Regions from separate parts of the Homo sapiens genome. Here region 1 is linked to region 2. Evidence: fine-mapped expression QTL. A gene starts in region 2. The other region holds a variant in brackets. All regions are shown on one strand. Distances are from middle to middle. Region 1 overlaps CFAP92 (cilia and flagella associated protein 92 (putative)). Region 2 holds the start of CFAP92 (cilia and flagella associated protein 92 (putative)).

Region 1 (10,728 bases), 36 kb before region 2:
TCGAGACCAGCCTGGCTAACACGGTGAAACCCAGTCTCTACTAAAAATACAAAAAATTAGCCGGGCGTGGTGGTGGGCGCCTGTAGTCCCAGCTACTCAGGAGGCTGAGGGAGGAGAATGGCATGAACCCAGGAGGCGGAGCTTGCAGTGAGCCAAGATCACGCCACTGCACTCCAGCCAGGGCGACAGAGCAAGACTCTGTCTCAAGAAAATAAAAAGAAAGAGGGATAATCACTCGCTTAAGAAGCAGCAACACGGTCTCCCTCTCCCTCTCCCTCTCCCTCTCCCTCCCCCTCTCCCTCTCCCTCTCCCTCCCTCTCCGTCTCCCTCTCCCCACGGTCTCCCTCTCATGCGGAGCCGAAGCTGGACTGTACTGCTGCCATCTCGGCTCACTGCAACCTCCCTGCCTGATTCTCCTGCCTCAGCCTGCCGAGTGCCTGCGATTGCAGGCACGCGCCACCACGCCTGACTGGTTTTGGTGGAGACGGGGTTTCGCTGTGTTGGCCGGGCCGGTCTCCAGCCCCTAACCGCGAGTGATCCGCCACCCTCGGCCTCCCGAGGTGCCGGGATTGCAGACGGAGTCTCGTTCACTCAGTGCTCAATGGTGCCCAGGCTGGAGTGCAGTGGCGTGATCTCGGCTCACTACAACCTCCACCTCCCAGCCGCCTGCCTTGGCCTCCCAAAGTGCCGAGATTGCAGCCTCTGCCCGGCCGCCACCCCGTCTGGGAAGTGAGGAGTGTCTCTGCCTGGCCGCCCATCGTCTGGGATGTGAGGAGCCCCTCTGCCCGGCCGCCCAGTCTGGGAAGTGAGGAGCGTCTCCGCCCGGCCGCCATCCCATCTAGGAAGTGAGGAGCGCCTCTTCCCAGCCGCCATCACATCTAGGAAGTGAGGAGCGTCTCTGCCCGGCCGCCCATCGTCTGAGATGTGGGGAGCGCCTCTGCCCCACCGCCCCATCTGGGATGTGAGGAGCGCCTCTGCCCGGCCGAGACCCCGTCTGGGAGGTGAGGAGCGTCTCTGCCCGGCCGCCCCGTCTGAGAAGTGAGGAGACCCTCTGCCTGGCAACCACCCCGTCTGAGAAGTGAGGAGCCCCTCCGCCCGGCAGCTGCCCCGTCTGAGAAGTGAGGAGCCTCTCCGCCCAGCAGCCACCCCATCTGGGAAGTGAGGAGCATCTCCGCCCGGCAGCCACCCTGTCCGGGAGGGAGGTGAGGGGGGGTCAGCCCCCCGCCCGGCCAGCCGCCCCATCCGGGAGGGAGGTGGGGGGTCAGCCCCCCGCCCGGCCAGCCGTGCCATCCGGGAGGGAGGTGGGGGGGTCAGCCCCCCGCCCGGCCAGCCGCCCGGTCCGGGAGGTGAGGGGCGCCTCTGCCCGGCCGCCCCTACTGGGAAGTGAGGAGCCCCTCTGCCCGGCCAGCCGCCCCGTCCGGGAGGGAGGTGGGGGGGTCAGCCCTCCGCCCGGCCAGCCGCCCCGTCTGGGAGGTGAGGGGCGCCTCTGCCCGGCCGCCCCTACTGGGAAGAGAGGAGCCCCTCTGCCCGGCCAGCCGCCCCGTCCGGGAGGGAGGTGGGGGGGTCGGCCCCCCGCCCGGCCAGCCGCCCCGTCCGGGAGGGAGGTGGGGGTGTCGGCCCCCCGCCCGGCCAGCCGCCCCGTCCGGGAGGGAGGTGGGGCGGTCAGCCCCCCTGCCCGGCCAGCCGCCCCGTCCGGGAGGTGAGGGGCGCCTCTGCCCGGCCACCCCTACTGGGAAGTGAGGAGCCCCTCTGCCCGGCCAGCCGCCCCGTCCGCGAGGGAGGTGGGGGGGTCAGCCCCCCGCCCGGCCAGCCGCCCCGTCCGGGAGGGAGGTGGGGGGGGTCAGCCCCCCTGCCCGGCCAGCCGCCCCGTCCGGGAGGGAGGTGGGGGGGGTCAGCCCCCCTGCCCGGCCAGCCGCCCCGTCCGGGAGGTGAGGGGCGCCTCTGCCCGGCCGCCCCTACTGGGAAGTGAGGAGCCCCTCTGCCCGGCCAGCTGCCCCGTCCGCGAGGGAGGTGGGGGGGTCAGCCCCCCCGCCCGGCCAGCCGCCCCGTCCGGGAGGGAGGTGGGGGGGGGTCAGCCCCCCTGCCCGGCCAGCCGCCCCGTCCGGGAGGTGAGGGGCGCCTCTGCCCGGCCGCCCCTACTGGGAAGTGAGGAGCCCCTCTGCCTGGCCAGCCGCCCCGTCCGGGAGGGAGGTGGGGGGGTCAGCCCCCCGACCGGCCAGCCGCCCCATCCGGGAGGGAGGTGGGGGGGTCAGCCCCCCGCCCGGCCAGCCGCCCCGCCCAGGAGGTGAGGGGCGCCTCTGCCCGGCCGCCCCTACTGGGAAGTGAGGAGCCCCTCTGCCCAGCCACCACCCCGTCTGGGAGGTGTGCCCAACAGCTCATTGAGAACGGGCCAGGATGACAATGGCGGCTTTGTGGAATAGAAAGGCGGGAAAGGTGGGGAAAAGATTGAGAAATCGGATGGTTGCCGTGTCTGTGTAGAAAGAAGTAGACATGGGAGACTTTTCATTTTGTTCTGCACTAAGAAAAATTCCTCTGCCTTGGGATCCTGTTGATCTGTGACCTTACCCCCAACCCTGTGCTCTCTGAAACATGTGCTGTGTCCACTCAGGGTTAAATGGATTAAGGGCGGTGCAAGATGTGCTTTGTTAAACAGATGCTTGAAGGCAGCATGCTCGTTAAGAGTCATCACCAATCCCTAATCTCAAGTAATCAGGGACACAAACACTGCGGAAGGCCGCAGGGTCCTCTGCCTAGGAAAACCAGAGACCTTTGTTCACTTGTTTATCTGCTGACCTTCCCTCCACTATTGTCCCATGACCCTGCCAAATCCCCCTCTGTGAGAAACACCCAAGAATTATCAATAAAAAAATAAATTAAAAAAAAAAATAAAAAAAAAATAAAAAAATAAAAAAAAAAAAAGAAAATAGAAAGAAAAAAAGAAATTACCCAATCTGAACAACACAGGGGAAAAAAGACACAAAAATCAAAATCAGAACTTCAGGGCCCTGTGGGACTAAAACAAAAGAACTAATATTCATGTCATTGGAGTTTCAGAAGGAGAGGAGAAAAAAGGTGGTGCTGAAAAGTATTCCAATAAATAATGGCTAAAATTTTCTCAAATTTGGCAAAATACATAAGCCTATAGATTCAAAGAGCTGAGAGAACCCCAAATAAGATAAACACAAAGAAATCCACACCAAGACATGTCATAGTCAAACTTCTGTAAATTAATGACAAAGAAAGAAAATCTTGAAAGCTGCAAGAGATAAATGCCACCTTACTTATAGGGAAAAAAAAGTAATTTGAATGACAGCAGATTTCCCATCAGAAACTGTAGTGGTAAGAAGAAAGTGGTATAACATTTTTCAAGTGTTAAAAAAAAAAATCCAGCCAGGCACAGTGGCTCACACCTGTAACCCCAGCACTTTGGGAGGCCGAGGTGCGTGCATCACCTGAGGTCAGGAGTTTGACACTAGCCTGGCTAACATGGTGAAATTCTGTCTCTACTAAAAATACAAAAATTAGCCAGGCATGGTGGTGCATGCTCATAATCCCAGCTACTCAGGAGGCTGAGGCAGGAGAATCACTTGAACCCAGGAGGCAGACGTTGCAGTGAGCCAACATCATGCCACTACACTCCAGCCTGGGTGACAGAGCCAGACTCTCTCAAAAAAAAAAAAAAAAAAAAGAAATCAACCCCATTCTATACCAATTCTATATCCAGTAAGACTATCCTTCCAGAATGAAGGAAAAATAAAAACACCCTGAGACAAAGAACAACTAAAAGAATTTGTTTTCAGCAGATTTATCCTAGAAGAAAGGCGAAAGGAAGTTCTTGAAACAGAAAGGAAATGACAAAAGAAGTCTTGGAACATTAGAAAGGAAGAAAGGATAATGGAATAAGTAGAACCACGGGTAAACAAATACACTTTCCTTCAACCCTTGAGTTTTCTAGGTTATGTGTTATGTTTGACAGTTGAAGCAAAAAGTATAACATCATCTCATGTGGTTATCAATCTATGTAGAGGAAATATTTAGGGAAACTAAAGGGGTATGGAGGGAGGTAAAGTTTCTATATTTCACTCAAACTGGTAAAATATTGATACCAAGAGATTGCGAAAAGTTATGTTATGCGTTAAATATAATATCCAGAGTGCCACTAAAAATCTATACCAAGAGATATAAATTCAAAAATACTACAGATAAATCAAAATGGAATTCTAAAAATGGGTCAAGTAACCCACAAGAAAGCAGGAATAAAAACCAAGAGAAACAAAAAAACAGAAGGAACAGACAGAAAACAAAAATTAAAATGGTAGACTTAAGCTCTAATATATCAACATTTACTCTAAATATAATGGTCTAAATACGTCAATTAAAAGGCAGAGTAAATAAAGAAACATGACCAAACTACATGCAAGGCCATTATCCTGGAGTGGGGGAGAAGGCCAGTCTCAAAAGGTCACATGCTGGATGTTTTCATTTATATAACCACACCAGTTTCCTACGAAGCGCCATAAACTGGGGGGGGGCTTAAAATGACAGAAATTTATTGTCTCCCTGTTCTGAGGCTAGAAGTCAGAAATTAAGCTGTTGGCAGGGCCACATTTCCTCAGAAGGTGCTCAGGAAGGTCCTTCCTTGCCTCTTCCAGCTTCTGGTGGCCCCAGATGTCCCCTGGCATGTGGCAGCATCCACTTTCCATGTGGCGTTCTCTGTGTGTCACTTTGCATAGTCTTCCCTCTACGTGTGTCTGTCTCTGGGTCCAATTTTCCCCCTTTCATAAGGATACCCTAATGACCTCATTTCAACTTGACTACCTCTGCAAAGACCCTCTTTCCAAATAAGATCACATTCTGAGATACTGGGCGTTAGGAGTTCAACATACCATTTTTTGGAGGAACACAATTCAATCCTTAACAATAACATTTTCAAATTGACAAAAGTATAGAGATAGCAAATTAGTGGTTAGGGATGGTGGGTGTTAGGGGTTGTTGTGACTATAAAAGGGTAGCACGAAGGAGATCTTTGTGATGATAGAATATTTCTACATCTCAAGTGCTGTGACAGTTACATACATGTACAATAAAATGGCACAGACCTATATACACATTAGACTCATGTCAATGTGCTGATTTTGATATTGTGCTATAGTTATGAAACACCTAATTACTGAGGAAATTGGACAAAGGATACATGGGACCTCTCTGTACTGTCTTTGCAACTTTCCGTGAATCTATATTTTAAAGTATGACATATGTATATGGACATACTCACACTAAGACACACAAGCAGTTTCAGAAGACAAAAAGGGCTGGCACTGTGGCTTACACCTATAATCCTAGCACTTTGGGAGGCCACGGCAGGAGGATCACTTGATCCCAGGAGTTCAGGACCAGCCTGCGCAACATGGCAAAACCCTGTCTCTACAAAAAATACAAAAACTAGCTGGGTGTGGTGGCGTGTGCCTGCAGTCTCAGCTACTAGGGAGGCTAAGGCAGGAGGATCACCTGAGCCCAGGAGGTTGAGGCTGCAGTAAGTTATGATCACACCACTGCACTCCAGACAGGGCAGTGGAGTGAGACCCTGTCTCAAAAAAATTTTTTTAAAAAAGGAGACAAGGTTGGACGCAGTGGCTGACACCTGTAATCCCAACACTTTGGGAGGCCAAGGCAGGTGGATCACCTGAGGTCAGGAGTTTGAGACCAGATTGACCAACATGGAGAAACCCTGTCTCTACTAAAAATACAAAATTAGCCGGGCGTGGTGGCAAATGCCTGTAATCCCAGCTACTCGGGAGGCTGAGGCAGAAGAATCGCTTGAACCCAGGAGGTGGAGGTTGTGGTGAGCTGAGATTGCACCCCTGCACTCCAGCCTGGGCAACAAGAGCAAAATTCTGCCTCAAATAAATAAATAAATAAAATAAAAAAGACGACAAAAAGGATTTTATAAGCATTTGGAGAAACAAAAAACAGTTCGCATACAAAGGTTCAACTTCAATGAAAATAAAAGATGATGGAACAATGCCTTCAAAACTCTGAAGGCAAATGATTTTTAGCCTAGAATTCTATATGCAGCCAAACTACCAGTCATGTGTAAGGATAAAAAAAGGTAGAAAAAAATATATCTGCAGACATATGAGATCTCAAAAATAAATCTCCCATTGACCTTTTCTCGAGAAGCTACTAGAGGATGCACTCCAGCAAAACCAGACAGCAAATAAAGGGAGAGAATTCAGGAGACAGGGATCCAACCAGAAGAGGGAACAAGGAACTCACAGAATAAACAGCAGTGCTGAACCTGGTTGGTTCACAATGAGTGAGCATCCCGCTGGCAACTGCCACAGGAAGAGGGAAGCCTGGGGGCTCCTGAAGGGAGGTTCATGACCTGCATGTGAAGAGCACCTGCGGCATAGTAGGAGACCTCAGGACTGGTCACACCTAATCCCAGGAACCCCATCTCTTTTGTATCTCACTGTGGGATCCTAAATGGTAAAATACAGGTGATAACTGTCAGGCCTCTGAGCCCAGGCCAGGCCATCACATCCCCTGTGACTTGCACGTATACATCCAGATGGCCTGAAGTAACTGAAGA[T/C]CCACAAAAGAAATAAAAACAGCCTTAACTGATGACATTCCACCATTGTGATTTGTTCCCGCCCCACCCTAACTGATCAATGTACTTTGTAGTCTCCCCCACCCTTAAGAAGGTTCTTTGTAATTCTCCCCACTCTTGAGAATGTATTTTGTGAGATCCACCCCTGCCCACCAGAGAACAACCCCCTTTGACTGTAATTTTCCATTACCTTCCCAAATCCTATAAAACGGCCCCACTCCCTTCGCTGACTCTCTTTTCGGACTCAGCCCGCCTGCACCCAGGTGAAATAAACAGCCATGTTGCTCACACAAAGCCTGTTTGGTGGTCTCTTCACACGGACGCGCATGAAATGTGGTGCCGTGACTCGGATCGGGGGACCTCCCTTGGGAGATCAATCCCCCGTCCTCCTGCTCTTTGCTCCGTGAGAAAGATCCACCTCTATGACCTCAGGTCCTCAGACCGACCAGCCCAAGAAACATCTCACCAATTTCAAATCCGGTAAGCGGCCTCTTTTGACTCTCTTCTCCAACCTCCCTCACTATCCCTCAACCTCTTTCTCCTTTCAATCTTGGTGCCACACTTCAATCTCTCCCTTAATTTCAATTCCTTTCATTTTCTGGTAGAGACAAAAGAGACACGTTTTATCCGTGGACCCAAAACTCCGGCGCCGGTCACGGACTGGGAAGGCAGCCTTCCCTTGGTGTTTAATCATTGCAGGGACGCTCTCTGATTATACACCCACGTTTCAAGGGTGTCAGACCACGCAGGGACGCCTGCCTTGGTCCTTCACCCTTAGCGGCTAGTCCCGCTTTTCTGGGGAAGGGGCAAGTACCCGTGAACCCCTTCTCCTTCACCCTCAGCGGCAAGTCCCGCTTTCCTGGGGCAGGGGCAAGTACCCCTCAACCCCTTCTCCTTCACCCTCAGCGGCAAGTCCCACTTTCCTGGGGCAGGGGCAAGTACCCCTCAACCCCTTCTCCTTCACCCTTAGCGGCAAGTCCCGCTTTTCTAGGGGGCAAGAACCCCCAAACCCCTTCCCTCCGGGTCTCTATGCTCTCTTTTCTCTGGGTTTGCTTCCTTCACTATGGGCAACCTTCCACCCTCCATTCCTCCTCCTTCTCCCTTAGCCTGTGTGCTCAAGAACTTAAAACCTCTTCAACTCACACCTGACCTAAAACCTAAATGCCTTATTTTCTTCTGCAATGCCGCTTGACCCCAATACAAACTCAACAGTAGTTCCAAATAGCCAGAAAATGGCACTTTAAATTTTTCCATCCTGCAAGATCTAAATAATTCTTGTCGTAAAATAGGCAAACGGTCTGAGGTGCCTGACGTCCCGGCATTCTTTTACACATCAGTCCCTTCCTAGTCGCTGTGCCCAGGGCAACTCCTCCCAAATCTTCCTTCTTTCCCTCCCGCCTGTCCCCTCAGTCCCAACCCCAAGCATCACTGACTCTTTCTAATCTTCCTTTTCTACAGACCCATCTGACCTCTCCCCTCCTCACCAGGCCGAGCTAGGTCCCAATTCTTCCTCAGCCTCCGCTCCTCCACCCTATAATCCTTTTATCACCTCCCCTCCTCACACCTGGTCCTGCTTATGGTTTTCATTCCGTGACTAGCCCTCCCCCACCTGCCCAGCAATTTACTCTTAAAAAGGTGGCTGGAGCTGAAGGCATAGTCAAGGTTAATGCTCCTTTTTCTTTATCCCAAATCAGATAGCGTTTAGGCTCTTTTTCATCAAATATAAAAACCCAACCCAGTTCATGGCAGCAACCCTGAGACGCTTTACAGCCCTAGACCCTAAAAGGTCAAAAGGCTGTCTTATTCTCAATATACATTTTATTACCCAATCTGCTCCCGACATTAAATAAAACTCCAAAAATTAAATTCCGGCCCTCAAACCCCACAACAGGATTGAATTAACCTCTCCTTCAAGGTGTACAATAATAGGAAAAAGTTGCAATTCCTTGCCTCCACTGTGAGACAAATCCCAGCCACATCTCCAGCACACAAGAACTTCCAAACGCCTGAACCGCAGTGGCCAGGTGTTCCTCCAGAACCTCCTCCCCCAGGAGCTTGCTACAAGTGCCAGAAATCTGACCACCAGGCCAAGGAATGCCCGCAGCCCAGGATTCCTCCTAAGCCGTGTCCCATCTGTGCGGGACCCCACTGGAAATTGGACTGTTCAACTCACCTGGCAGCCACTCCCAGAGCCCCTGGAACTCTGGCCCGAGGCTCTCTGACTGACTCCTTCTCGGCTTAGCGGCTGAAGACTGATGCTGCCCGATCGCCTCGGAAGCCCCATAGACCATCACGGACGCCGAGCTTCCGGTAACTCTCACAGCGGAAGGTAAGCCCGTCCCCTTCTTAAGCAATACGGAGGCTACCCACTCCACATTACCTTCTTTTCAAGGGCCTGTTTCCCTTGCCTCCATAACTGTTGTGGGTATTGACAGACAGGCTTCTAAACCTCTTAAAACTCCCCAACTCTGGTGCCAACTTAGACAATACTCTTTTATGCACTCTTTTTTAGTTATCCCCACCTGCCCAGTTCCCTTATTAGACCGAGATATTTTAACCAAATTATCTGCTTCCCTGACTATTCCTGGACTACAGCTGCATCTCATTGCTGCCCTTCTTCCCAATCCAAAGCCTCCTTTGCGTCCTCCTCTTGTATTCCCCCACCTTAACCCACAAGTATAAGAGACCTCTACTCCCTCCTTGGCAACTGATCACGCACCCCTTACCATCTCATTAAAACCTAATCATCCTTACCCCGCTCAATGCCAATATCCTATCCCACAGCACGATTTAAAAGGATTAAAGCCTGTGATCACTCGCCTGCTACAGCACGGGCTTCTAAAACCTATAAACTCTCCTTACCATTCCCCCATTTTACCTGTCCTAAAACCAGACAAGGCTTACAAGTTAGTTCAGAATCTGCGCCTTATCAACCAAATTGTTTTGCCTATCCACCCCGTGGTGCCAAACCCATATACTCTCCTATCCTCAATACCTTCCTCTACTACCCATTATTCTGTTCTGGATCTCAAACATGCTTTCTTTACTATTCCTTTGCACCCGTCATCCCAGCCTCTCTTTGCCTTCACTTAGACTGACCCTGACACCCATTAGGCTCAGCAAATTACCTGGGCTGTACTGCCGCAAGGCTTCACAGACAGCCCCCATTACTTCAGTCAAGCCCAAATTTCGTCCTCATCTGTTACCTATCTTGGCATAATTCTCATAAAAACACATGTGCTCTCCCTGCTGATCGTGTCTGATTAATCTCCCAAACCTCAATCCCTTACAAAAGAACAACTCCTTTCCTTCCTAGGCATGCTTAGTGCGGTCAGAATTCTTAAACAAGAGCCAGGACCACACCGTGTAGCCTTTCTGTCCAAACAACTTGACCTTACTGTTTTAGCCTAGCCCTCATGTCTGCGTGCAGCGGCTGCCGCTGCTTTAATACTGTTAGAGGCCCTAAAAGTCACAAACTATGCTCAACTCACTCTCTACATTTCCCAAAATCTATTTTCTTCCTCATACCTGACGCATATACTTTCTGCTCCCCGGCTCCTTCAGCTGTACTCACTCTTTAAGTCTCACAATTACCATCGTTCCTGGCCCGGACTTCAATCTGGCCTCCCACATTATTCCTGATACCACACCTGACCCCCATGACTGTATCTCTCTGATCCACCTGATATTCACCCCATTTCCCCATATTTCCTTCTTTCCTGTTCCTCACCCTGATCACGCTTGATTTATTGACGGCAGTTCCACCAGGCCTAATCGCCACACACCAGCAAAGGCAGGCTATGCTATAGTACAAGCCACTAGCCCGCCTCTCAGAACCTCTCATTTCCTTTCCATCCTGGAAATCTATCCTCAAGGAAATAACTTCTCAGTGTTCCATCTGCTATTCTACTACTCCTCAGGGATTATTCAGGCCCCCTCCCTTCCCTACACATCAAGCTCGAGGATTTGCCCCCACCCAGGACTGGCAAATTAGCTTTACTCAACATGCCCGAGTCAGGAAACTAAAATACCTCTTAGTTCAAATAGACACTTTCACTGAATAAGTAAAGGCCTTTCCTACAGGGTCTGAGAAGGCCACCGCAGTCATTTCTTCCCTT
Region 2 (10,728 bases):
GACCTGGACTGGGCACCTGAGTGCAAAATTTAGGTGCATGGTTTTCAGAGTGAGTGTCTCAGTTGGAGAGTGAGTGTTGGTTAGTAGGCCTAGGGTTAAAAAGGTGATAGAGTTAAAGTGAAATCACATGGCCAGGCCAGATGTTATTAGGAGAGACGCCATACTTGCCTTACCCTGGTCCCTCCTGGCCCTAAGAAGCAGGTAAAAAAAAAAAAAAAAAAAAATCACAGTACAATGTGATTTGTGCAATAATAGCAGCAGGAACAAGGTTGTGAAGAACGAAGGTGGAGGAGAAAACTCTGCATGGGGAGGGTGGGGTGGGCCTCCCAGGGGGACCTTAGCAGAGTCTTAGAGGAGCAAAGCTGGCAGATATTCCAGACAGACAGAGAAAGCAGCTTCACAAAAATGTCATGGGTGAAGCTACCCAATGCGGGGTGGATAGGGTGACAGGATGTGGAAGGTACAGATGGGCTTCTGCCAGAGTCCAGAGCCCAAGGAGCCCCCTGACCCCACCCCTGGTTGCTTACACTCCAGCTTAAACTGCACACTCTAGGTTGGGGCTTTTCACATCATAAGAAGCTCCATAAACATTTAATCCAAATATCATTCTATAAAAACATGACTGTCTTTAAAGCTGTAGTTTTTAAAGTCTAAATTTTTAACCCCAGGAGACTGCTGCAGCATTAATTTTTCTGCTACCAAAATAGTTAGCATTTGTGCAGAGATTGGAGTGAAGCTTCTCCTGCCAGTCTCTGGTAGCATTAGACCTTTTCTGATTCAATCCCAGGTGGGCCAGCAAGTGGACAAACAGAGCCTCTCATTTTCTGTAGACAGAAAGGCAAGTTATTTAGCCCTTTTAAAGGGGAAGTTGACAATATCTATCAAAAACTATTAATACATGCCTTCAATCCAGCAAATTTACTTCTTGGAATACAGGCAACAGAAGTGCCCACATATATGCACAAAAATGGACGTAAAGAATGTCTATCGCAGAATTGCAACAGAAAAACATTTGAAACAACTCAAATATCCACCAATAAGGGGTAGGATAAATTAGAGACATATAATGGAATACTGTTAATATATAGGTGTTTAAAATGAAACAACAAAATTAAAACAAGTATCCTTGCCCAGGCAAAGTGGCTCATGCCTGTAATCCTAGCACTTTGGGAGGCCCAGGCAGGAGGATGATCTGAGGTCAGGAGTTCCAGACCAGCCTGGCCAACATGGCGAAACCCCGTCTCTACTAAAAATACAAAAATTAGCTGGGCATGGTGGCATGTGCCTGTAGTTCCAGCTGCTTGGGAGGCTGAGGCAGGAGAATCGCTTGAACCCAGGAGGCGGAGGTTGCAGTGAGCCAAGATCGCGCCACTGTACTCCAGCCTGGGTGACAGAGAGAGACTCTGTCTAAAAACAAACAAACAAAAACAAGTATCCTTGATCATATTCTCAAAGATAATCTAAATCATGTCAAAACATTTTAAAGTAAGTTGTAGGATCTCATTTCTCTGAAATAAACAATTTATAGGTCGGGCGTGGTGGTTCACGTCTGTAATTCCAGCGTTTTGGAAAGCCAAGGCGGGTGGATCACCTAAGGTCAGGAGTTCAAGACCGGCCTGACCAATATGGTGAAACCCCATCTCTACTAAAAATACAAAAATTAGCTGGGCGTGGTGGCATGTGCCTGTGGTCCCAGCTACTTTGGGAAGCTGAGACAGGAGAATTGCTTGAACCTGGGAGGTGGAGGTTGCAGTGAGCCGAGATTGTGCCACTGAACTCCAGTCTAGGCAACAGAGCAAGACTCCGTCTCAAAAATAAATAAATAAATAATTTATATAAAGAAACATTTATGTACTCATCTGTAAATACTCAGGTATTGAAGGAAAAAAAAATTAAACTAGAATTTTATGTAGAGCCGAAGGTATGTCATTTAAAGGTATTGGCATGATAAAAAAATACTCTTAGGCACACAAGGTCTCATGAAGTTTTGCCCCACAGAGATCCATTTTATAAATGCCTTTAGAGGACAACAACAACAAAAACAAAAACATGCTTAGAAGATGCTGTGAAAGAGATGAGGGCTAAAGGAGGTCAAGTGCCAATTTTCTTTTGGTTGGTATTTGCCAGATGTCTTTTTCCAGGCTCTTTTGCTTTATAGCAATAGACCCAAGAGTAAAGGCATCATTTTAGACAGGAATGGTCACCATAAAATGACAAAAAGTTCAGTTCACCAAGAAGATGGAGCAGTTCTAAACATACTATACACCCAACCAGTCGGCCTCCAAAATAGCTGAAGCAACCATCTGTAAGACTCTCCCCAGGGCCTGAAAGCTTAAGGAGATGAATAACTCCTCCCTTCTCAAGCCTAGTCCCAAGGCGTAAGGTCACTTACGTCAGCAGCGTGCACCAGCAAAATAGCAGAAGCAGGAGGAGAGCCGGCTGGAATACACCTACCCTGGCCGGAAGACATGAAGATGAGAAAGAGGCCATCCGGGTACAGCGTAGCAGTTACGCCAGACTAGGACACTTCCTGTTTACAGGAGACTATAAAACCTTTGCCCCGTCCTCACTTGGGGCTGACGCCATTTTAGGCCTCAGCCGGCCTGCACCAAGGCGTTCATTGAAACAGCATGTTGCTCCACACCGCCTCGTGTTGTCTGTTGGTGCGCTCTCGGGGTTCCAACCCATACAAGAAACTTACACCATCGACAGAATACCAGGAGAAGTTGAAATCATAATGGTGGGCTAGTTCAAGTAAGCAGATGAAAACAAAACAAAGCAAGGTCTATCAAGATGTGAAGTACTACTTGTCTCCTCCCCTCATATTGGGCTGGAACCATGTGACTTGGTTTGGCCAATAAAATGCTAGCAGGTGGGAGACACTCAAAGACTTGAGGAGTGTTTGTGGGGCTAGGCTTGCCCTCCTGTGTGTCCGTGTTTCTAGAACAAGAAGGGGTCTAGGATAGCCCACTGGTCCAGGAGGAAAAGGAGCAGCATGAAGCAGAGCTGAGCTGTTGCAGAACCCAGCCTAGACCAGCGCCCAGCACCTCCAGGAGAACCTCAGGTTCCTGTGTGCAGCCATGAGCTTGGGGGCTTGTTTGGGTTTGTTGCACCGCATTTTTGTGGCAATAGCTAATTGATACACCTTTACATTCAGAGATTGATTCAACAGATCAGAGAAAATGTATTTTTTGGCCGGGTGCGGTGGCTCATGCCTGTAATCCCAGCACTTTGGGAGGCTGAGGCAGGAGGATGACCTGAGGTCAGGGGTTCGAGACCATTCTGGCCAACATGGTGAAACCCAGTCTCTACTAAAAATACAAAAATTAGATGGGTGTGGTGGCGTGCACCTGTAATCCCAGCTACTTGGGAGGCTGAGGCACGAGAATTGCTTGAACCCGGAAGGCTGAGGTTGCAGTGAGCTGAGATCGCACCACTGCACTCCAGCCTGGTGACAGAGCAAGACTCCATCTCAATAAAAAAAGAATTATTATTTTTTTTTTTTTTGACAGAGTTTTGCTCTTGTTGCCCAGGCTGGAGTGCAATGGCGTGATCTCTGCTCACCACAACCTCCACCTCCGGGGTTCAAGAGACTCTCCTGCCTCAGACTCCCGGAAAATGTATTTTAAACAAGGTATTAGGTGATGCACAAGCGCTTATGAGAATCAATGCCTTAACCTCTCCATGGTTTTTTTTTCTTCTGTAAAAAGCAGACAGAACATCACCTGCTTTAGGGTTGTTGAGAGGATTAAGTATGTGAAGCTGATGCAGCCACAGTTGGGCCTCTCCTAAAATTGCTGTTTCTTTTCAACCTCTGCTCCTGGCTGGCACTGGCCAGCCCGCTTTGGGGTGGGGCAGGTGGAGAGAGGATGTGGGGTGTATGCGCCCTAAACTCCTGCAGAAAGTCATGCACCTCCTTTTTTCAGAGGGTGTTAAACTTCTGCTCTAGCACCTACCCATATTCACAGGGAAGGCCAGTGAGATGGTGAATTTGCAGGGGACCACGTGGGGCACGTCGGAGCTGAAAGTGCTGGCAGGCTCAGATGAGGACTCGATGCTGCTGCACGGGCGGTCAGAGTCAGACTCCTGGGCCCTGGCCTTGGCCTTCAGGTGTTCCTCCACGTCACACTCGCTCGTGGACTGGTAAAAGCTAGTGATGGAGGAGATGGGCTCTATGCTTGCGGGGTCCTCTTCCCACTCCCAGGCATGTAGCGACATGCTGCAGAGCGCACTGCTGGCCGCCGGCGCTCCTGGCAGGGAGAAAGTGAAGGCTGTCCCCGCCTGTATTCCAGGGCTGCTCCAGGAGGTAAGCCCGGCCTCCTGCAGAAGCACCCACCCTTCTCTTCCCTGCTTCCCCCGCCTGCTCCTAGATGAACGCCGGGGCTCCTTCACTGCCTGCCACACAGTCGGTACTCAATCGACTTAGAGAATGAATGGATGAAGGAACAACAGATAAGGGTGGCTGGCAGTAAGCACGACGACGAGCAACCCCGTTTCCTTCGCCTAACCAGGAGTCAGTCGCCGGGCTTCTGGAATGCCTGCCCCAGGTGAGCAGCTCCCGGGAGCCACCAGGCGGGAGAGGGGACGTCTGCTCAGGCAGGCCTGCTGCGCCTAAGCACAAGATGCGTTTGCTATTTGGGGAGAGGCAAACCAGGCCGGGGGCAGCACGTGCAGGAGCCTGGCGAGGTCGGGGAGGGCAAGCCCTGTCCCCAAGACAGAACATGAATGTGCACTGGGTGCTGGGCTCGGGGCATCAGCTCAGGCCCATGGAGGCGGAACGCCGGGCAAACGCCGAAGAGGGAACACGCATCGAGGCGAGGCGGGAAGAGTCCCGGGCTGCGGCGGCCGAGGTGGGGGCAGGGGTCGGGGTTCCCCTCCAGGTGCTGGCGGTACCTGCGAGCGGATGCGCTGGGCGGCAGCGGGGAGTTGGACCGCGGCGGCAACTCCCGTACCGGATCCACAGCCACCTGGGCGAAGAGACTCCAAGACTGAGAGGAGCGTCCGCCGGTGCAGGGAGGGCCGCAGGCCCAGCCACTCAGCTACGTTTGGCGGTTGCTAGGAGACGCGAGGGCGTGCGGCCTGGGGGCGGGGCTCCGCGGGGCGGGGCTTTCCCCCTCAGCCACTGCGCGCAGTTTGTCAAATGGCTACATCCAGGTTCAGAAACCAGCTGCCTTCATTCCTTCACTCATGCATTCACTCATTAAGGAGTTTCTACTCGGAACGTCAGCACCTACTATAAGCCTGGTCCTTGCCCGTACGATGGGAGGTAGGGGTTGATGGCTCCTTCCTCCCCCTCCATCAGCTCCCACCTCCCATTCTTTAATAAAAGCAAAGGAAGCTGTGGGCTCTGCAAACTCCAGACCTCCCCACGATCCCTCTCATTAGATTCTCTGCTTCTGTCGCCGATGTCCTTAAAAACCAGACCTCCCCACGATCCCTCTCATTAGATTCTCTGCTTCTGTCGCTGATGTCCTTAAAATAGCATGAGAATTCTTGTTAGTGATCATGAGCGCCAACTCAGAGATCAGAAAACAAAGCTTAGAGAGGTGAAGCGATTCGCCCGAGGTCACACAGCAAGTAGGGCGCAGCACTGTGTTGAAATCCGGACTGCCTGACTCCAAAGCCTCCGCTCGTCTGCTAAACCACCCAAGCTGAGAGCCCTGGCTGCGGCTCCTAATGTAGAGGACCTCAGCACAGCAAGCGGCTGGGACAGAGGGCTGGGGTAGGCCTCATGGAGGAAGTGAGCAACGCCAAATCTGGGGGGTGACTAGGCAGAGGCGGTGAAAGCAAGAGAAAGCATCCCAGGTAGAGGAACAGCATATGCAAAGGCCCATAGAGGTGAAAGGGCATGGCAAGTTTCAGGAATGGGTGGCGAGGCTGTAGCAGTGTGCAGGGCCCATGGTACATAGCCCCACAGGGCAGGTTAGGGCACAGGACTATGGGCAATGGGGAGCCAAGGCAGGTCTTCTGTTGAGGGAGGGCACCCTGCTCCGGCAGTCAGTTTGTTCAAGAGAATGGGAGCTGAGGCTACACACAAGCTTGGCTATTAAGAAAACTTTAGCTGAGTTGAGCTATGACCTACTTTGTGTCAAAGAGCAAAACTGTGGCGCAGCTGGGGCTGAGACCCAAGTCCTGAGCCTCCCAGTGCATGCCTCCCCAGACCGCTCTCAGGGCATGGGACAGCCCCTTTAATACTGGGTGCTCCAATACTCCTCGGGTTCAGTCTGAAAAACAGCCTCAAGTACAGCTGTTAGGGAAGACACCAAATGGCAGTGGGCCCTGTGAGGAGTGGGTTCAAACTCTTAGCACGAGAACGGCAACCACCTTGCCCACACCCCACCTGCAGCAGCCTGGAGACTGCTGTCTGTATGCCAGGAAGTGCTCAGGAGACACATGAAGGGCTGGAAGAATACAAAGCTACTCAGATACACCAGCCCCCAAAAGGGCCCTTTAACAAGGGCAGTTCAACACTACCACCACTCTTGGACAGACATCAGGCCTCCTGCTCCCCAGGTCCTACCCACTGGCCTGAGGCTGGTTTCCCTCCAAAGGTTCCTAGATCACATCACCACCTAGGACAGAAGCCAATCTCTTCCCAAGCTCAATAGTGAGAGGCCAGAGGTCTTGGACCAAGGGCCAATGTGCCATCCTGGATGTGCACTGGAAACACCTACATGTCAAAAATACAATTCTGAGGCTTCATTAAAGACCTGTGGAAGTGACTCTCCAGGGGTGGAGCTTAGAAACCAGTGGCAGATTGTATTTTCCAAAGACAGCCACCTCAAAAGATCCCCTCCCACATAATCTTCCGGCAGGCATTGTGAGGTTCACATTCCTCCCACCCAGTTGGGGGGTCTAGTCTCCTTCTCTGGAAACTGGGCAGACCTCTGTGACTGGCTCAGTCAAAAGAGTGCAGAGGAAATGACACTATGTGATTTCTGAGGCCAGGTCATATAAATTCCATCTACCTCTGCCCTGTTCTTTTGAGGTATAGTATTCATGCTAGGAATCCAGCTAGCATGTTGTGAGGAAGCCCAAGCAGCCATGTGAAATGGCCACATGAAACTGTTGTGACTGACGGTTCCCAGCCAATTGCAGCCTCAACCCCCAGACATATGAGAGTGCAAGACTTCAAATGATCCCAGCCCTCAGTCTTTGAGCCACCCTGGCTGACATTGAGGAACAGAAACAAGCTGTCTCCATCATGAGAAATTGTAGATTTATAAGCAAATTGTTGCTCTCTTAAACCACTAAGTTTTGGGGTGATTTGTTGTGCAATAAATAATAGGAACGGGAGCCATATTTTTAAATTACCACCAAGATTGTATTGCACAACCAGAATATGGAACCACTGCCCTGAGAGAGATGGTGTCTGGGTCAAGACCTAGGGCATCACAGGATGAAGTGAGGGCAAAGGTGTGCTACCCACTACTCAGGTATGAGACAGTGGTGGGTCTACAACCCTACCTCAGTGAAGATGGCTTCAGGGCTGGCAGATCAGAAGCAAAGGAAGGGGGGCTTCTGTTTCAGTTATCTGTTACTGAGTAAAAACCATCCCCAAACTTAATGGTGTCAAACAAACACTTGTTATTTCTCACCACTCCATGCATCAGCTGAGTAGTTCTCTGCTGGCCTCGCCTGGGCTCACTCCCTATGCTGTGCTCAGCTGGAGGACCAACATGGCTGGAAGCTGCCAGAAGTCCTCACTTGCATGTCTGGCAGTTGCTGCTGGCTCTTCGTGGGCCCGCTGGTTCCCCTCCATGGGTTCCCCCGCCCCCAGTGGTACACCAGCTTCCTTCTATGTGGTGCCTCATCTCCTCATAGCCCGGCCTGGCTTCCTCAGATGGCATTCTCAGAGCAGGGATCCCAGAGGGCAAAGAAGAAGTTGCAAGGCCTCTTGGGACCTAGGCGTGGAACCAGCACCATGTCACTCTGCTACATGCCATTAACCAAAGCAAGTCATGAGGCTGGCCCCACTTCAAGGGGATGAAGACATGGACTGTACATCTGGTAAGCAGAGGGACAAGCATCCAGGGGCAGGAGGTGTTCAAGGTCACTGAACAATCCATCCCTTCATCCTTACTCTGCCGGGTGGAGGGTTCCCAAGCTCCCACAGGCTATGTAGAGGCCTTCCTGAAGCTATCCCAAGACTCTGGCAGCTGGAAGCATATTGGGAATCAGCTACATACACCTTCTTCTTGCCCCTTCCCCATTTTTAACAGCTTTATTGAAGTATTTTTTATTTAATAAAATCCATCCATTTCAAGCGTAGAATTCAATGATTTTCAGTAACTTTACCTAGTGCTGTAATCATCATCATAAATTCATTTTAGAACATTTTCATCCCCCTAATAAGACTTCATGCACATTTATAATTAATCTCTGTTCCAACTCCCAGTCCTAGGCAACCATATCTACTTTGTTTCTAAAAATTGGCCTTTTCTAGACATTTCCTATAAATTGAGTCAGACACTGTGTTCTGGCTTTGTGACTGGTTTCTTTCACCTACCGTTATGTTTCCAAGGTTTATTTATGTTGAGGCATGTGTCAGTATTTCATTCCTTTTCATGACTGAATAATATTCTATTGTATGGACAGACCACAGTTTGCCTATCCATTCATCAGTTAATGGGCATTTGGCTTGGGCATTTAGACATTTATGAACAACGTTGCTATGAACATTCCCACACAAGTCTTTGTGTGGATGTGTTTTCATCTCTCTTGGGTCGATATCTAGGAGTGGAAGAGTTGGGTCGTATGGTCATTTTGTGATTAACTTCTTGAGAAACTGCCAAACTATCTTCCACAGGGGCTGCATCATTTTGTGTTCCCATCAACAACATGAAGTTTCCTGTTTCTCCAAATTCTTGACAAGATTTATTGCCTGTTTTATTCACTACAGCTATTCTCATGAGTATAATATAGTATTTCATCATAGTTTTCATGTGCATTTCCCTAACAAGAATACTGAGATTGTTTTATGCACATGTTGGCTATTTATACAACTTCTTTGGTGAAATGTCTGTTTGTATCTTCACCCACTTTTTGATTGGATTGTTTGTCTTCTTGTTACTGAGTTGTTAAGAGTTCATTGTAAATTCGGAATATAAGTCCTTTACTGGGCATATGTTTTACAAATATTTTCTCCTAGTCTCTTGTTCGTCATATTTTCTTAATAGTGTCTTTTGAAGTGCAAATGTTTTGAACTTTGATGAAGGTCCGATTCATCATTTTTTTCTTTTTTGGATCATGCATTTGGTGTCGTATCTAAGAAATCTTTGACTAACAACAGGCCTATTTTTAATAGAAGTAAAGCTTGGTGTCTGAACACTAAGCAAATCTACTAACCAAGACCCCTAAAAACCCAAAAGCTTTATGACACTGAAAATAATGGCCCAAGGACATTCCCAGACAGTTCTGGGCTCTGGATAGAACAACACAAGTTTCCAAAAAACAGGCTGATAATACCACAAGCTTATAAAATATGTATACTCCTTGGCCCAGTAATAAATCACTCAAGATATGGCACAAACTGTTCACAGTATGGTTTTTGCGGAGAAAAGCTGAAAACCACCTCAGTGGGCATCTGTGGGGGATGACAAAGCACCTTATAGTTCATCCCCAGGGAGCACAGAGCAGCCTCTGGAGCAGTGTCTGCAAAGAAACCACAGCCAAGCTGTTTACAAAGCTCAGTTCCTGTGCAAAGAAAGATCCCAATGGCGCCCTTTCCACTGTGCTTTTCATGTCAAGTTGAATGAGCTACGATTTGCACACTGTAAAATTCAGATGTACACAGTCATGCAACCACTACACCATGAAGATAGAGTATTTCAATCACTCCAAAAAGTTCTTTCATGCCCAAATACATAGAAAAGTCTGGAAATAAATACATCAGAAATACACAGTGATCCTCTCTTGGTGGCAGAATGGTGGATGATTTTTGCTTTTTAGCATTTTCCCGGACCTTTAAAAGACACTTTAAACAATATACTATTTGAAATGGCTCAAACAATACTGAACTGACTTCAGAAAATCATTTCTTTGCCACAGCCCTGACTCTCTCCCACACAGACACACGCCCATCCCCCCAGCTCATACAAAAGAACGCAAGGAGACCTCTGAGTTTGCTCACTTTGAACCTTAAACAAAAACCTTGTGGATGCAACCAGAATTATTTCAGAGGTGCCTGGTAACACCGCAGGGCAGACAGACAGGCCTGACAGCAAACCATTATCAACCCTTACTTCCCTGAGCTGTAGGGGAGTGGAGGCCGGCAACGGCTCCCAGCAAGACATTTAAAAGCTTTCTTTTCAATATTGACTGGCCCAGGAAAGCTACTGTTCAAAGGATTCCTTCACCAGCTGCAGGGATGGGGGGTGGGGAGGGTGTTGCACTCTTGCCTGGGCTACCAGCTCTTAGGGCTGACATGAAATAAAATCAGGTTCTTTTTTTTTTTTTTTTTTTTTTTTTGAGACGGAGTCTCGCTCTGTCGCCCAGGCTGGAGTGCAATGGCAGGATCTCAGCTTACTGCAACCTCCGCCTCCCAGGTTCAAGCGATTCATCTGCCTCAGCCTCCCAAGTAACTGGGATTACAGGCGCCTGCCACCACGCCCAGCTAACTTTTGGTATTTTTAGTAGAGATGGGGGTGGTTCACTATGTTGTCCAGGCTGTTCTCGAACTCTTGACCTCAGGCAATCCACCCGCCTCGGCCTCCCAAAGTGGTGGGA

What was found. PIP is the estimated chance that this variant, and not a neighbour inherited with it, causes the effect.
Region 1: its variant is fine-mapped to the expression of CFAP92 in whole blood (INTERVAL, PIP above 0.99).

Annotation. Positions count from the first base shown.
Region 1 is chr3:128,953,310-128,964,037 of GRCh38, forward strand. The region is part of intron 9 of CFAP92 (cilia and flagella associated protein 92 (putative)); the gene reads right to left. Among named protein-coding and RNA genes, the nearest start is that of CFAP92, 35 kb to the right of the region's middle. The variant T/C (reference allele first, on the strand shown) is at 6,593.
Region 2 is chr3:128,989,087-128,999,814 of GRCh38, forward strand. CFAP92 (cilia and flagella associated protein 92 (putative)) reads right to left here and starts at 4,990. Exons shown (of 16, transcript NM_001394090.1): 1 at 4,894-4,990; 2 at 3,957-4,250. The coding sequence starts at 4,218. RefSeq lists an enhancer at 3,658-4,419 and a silencer at 4,996-5,205.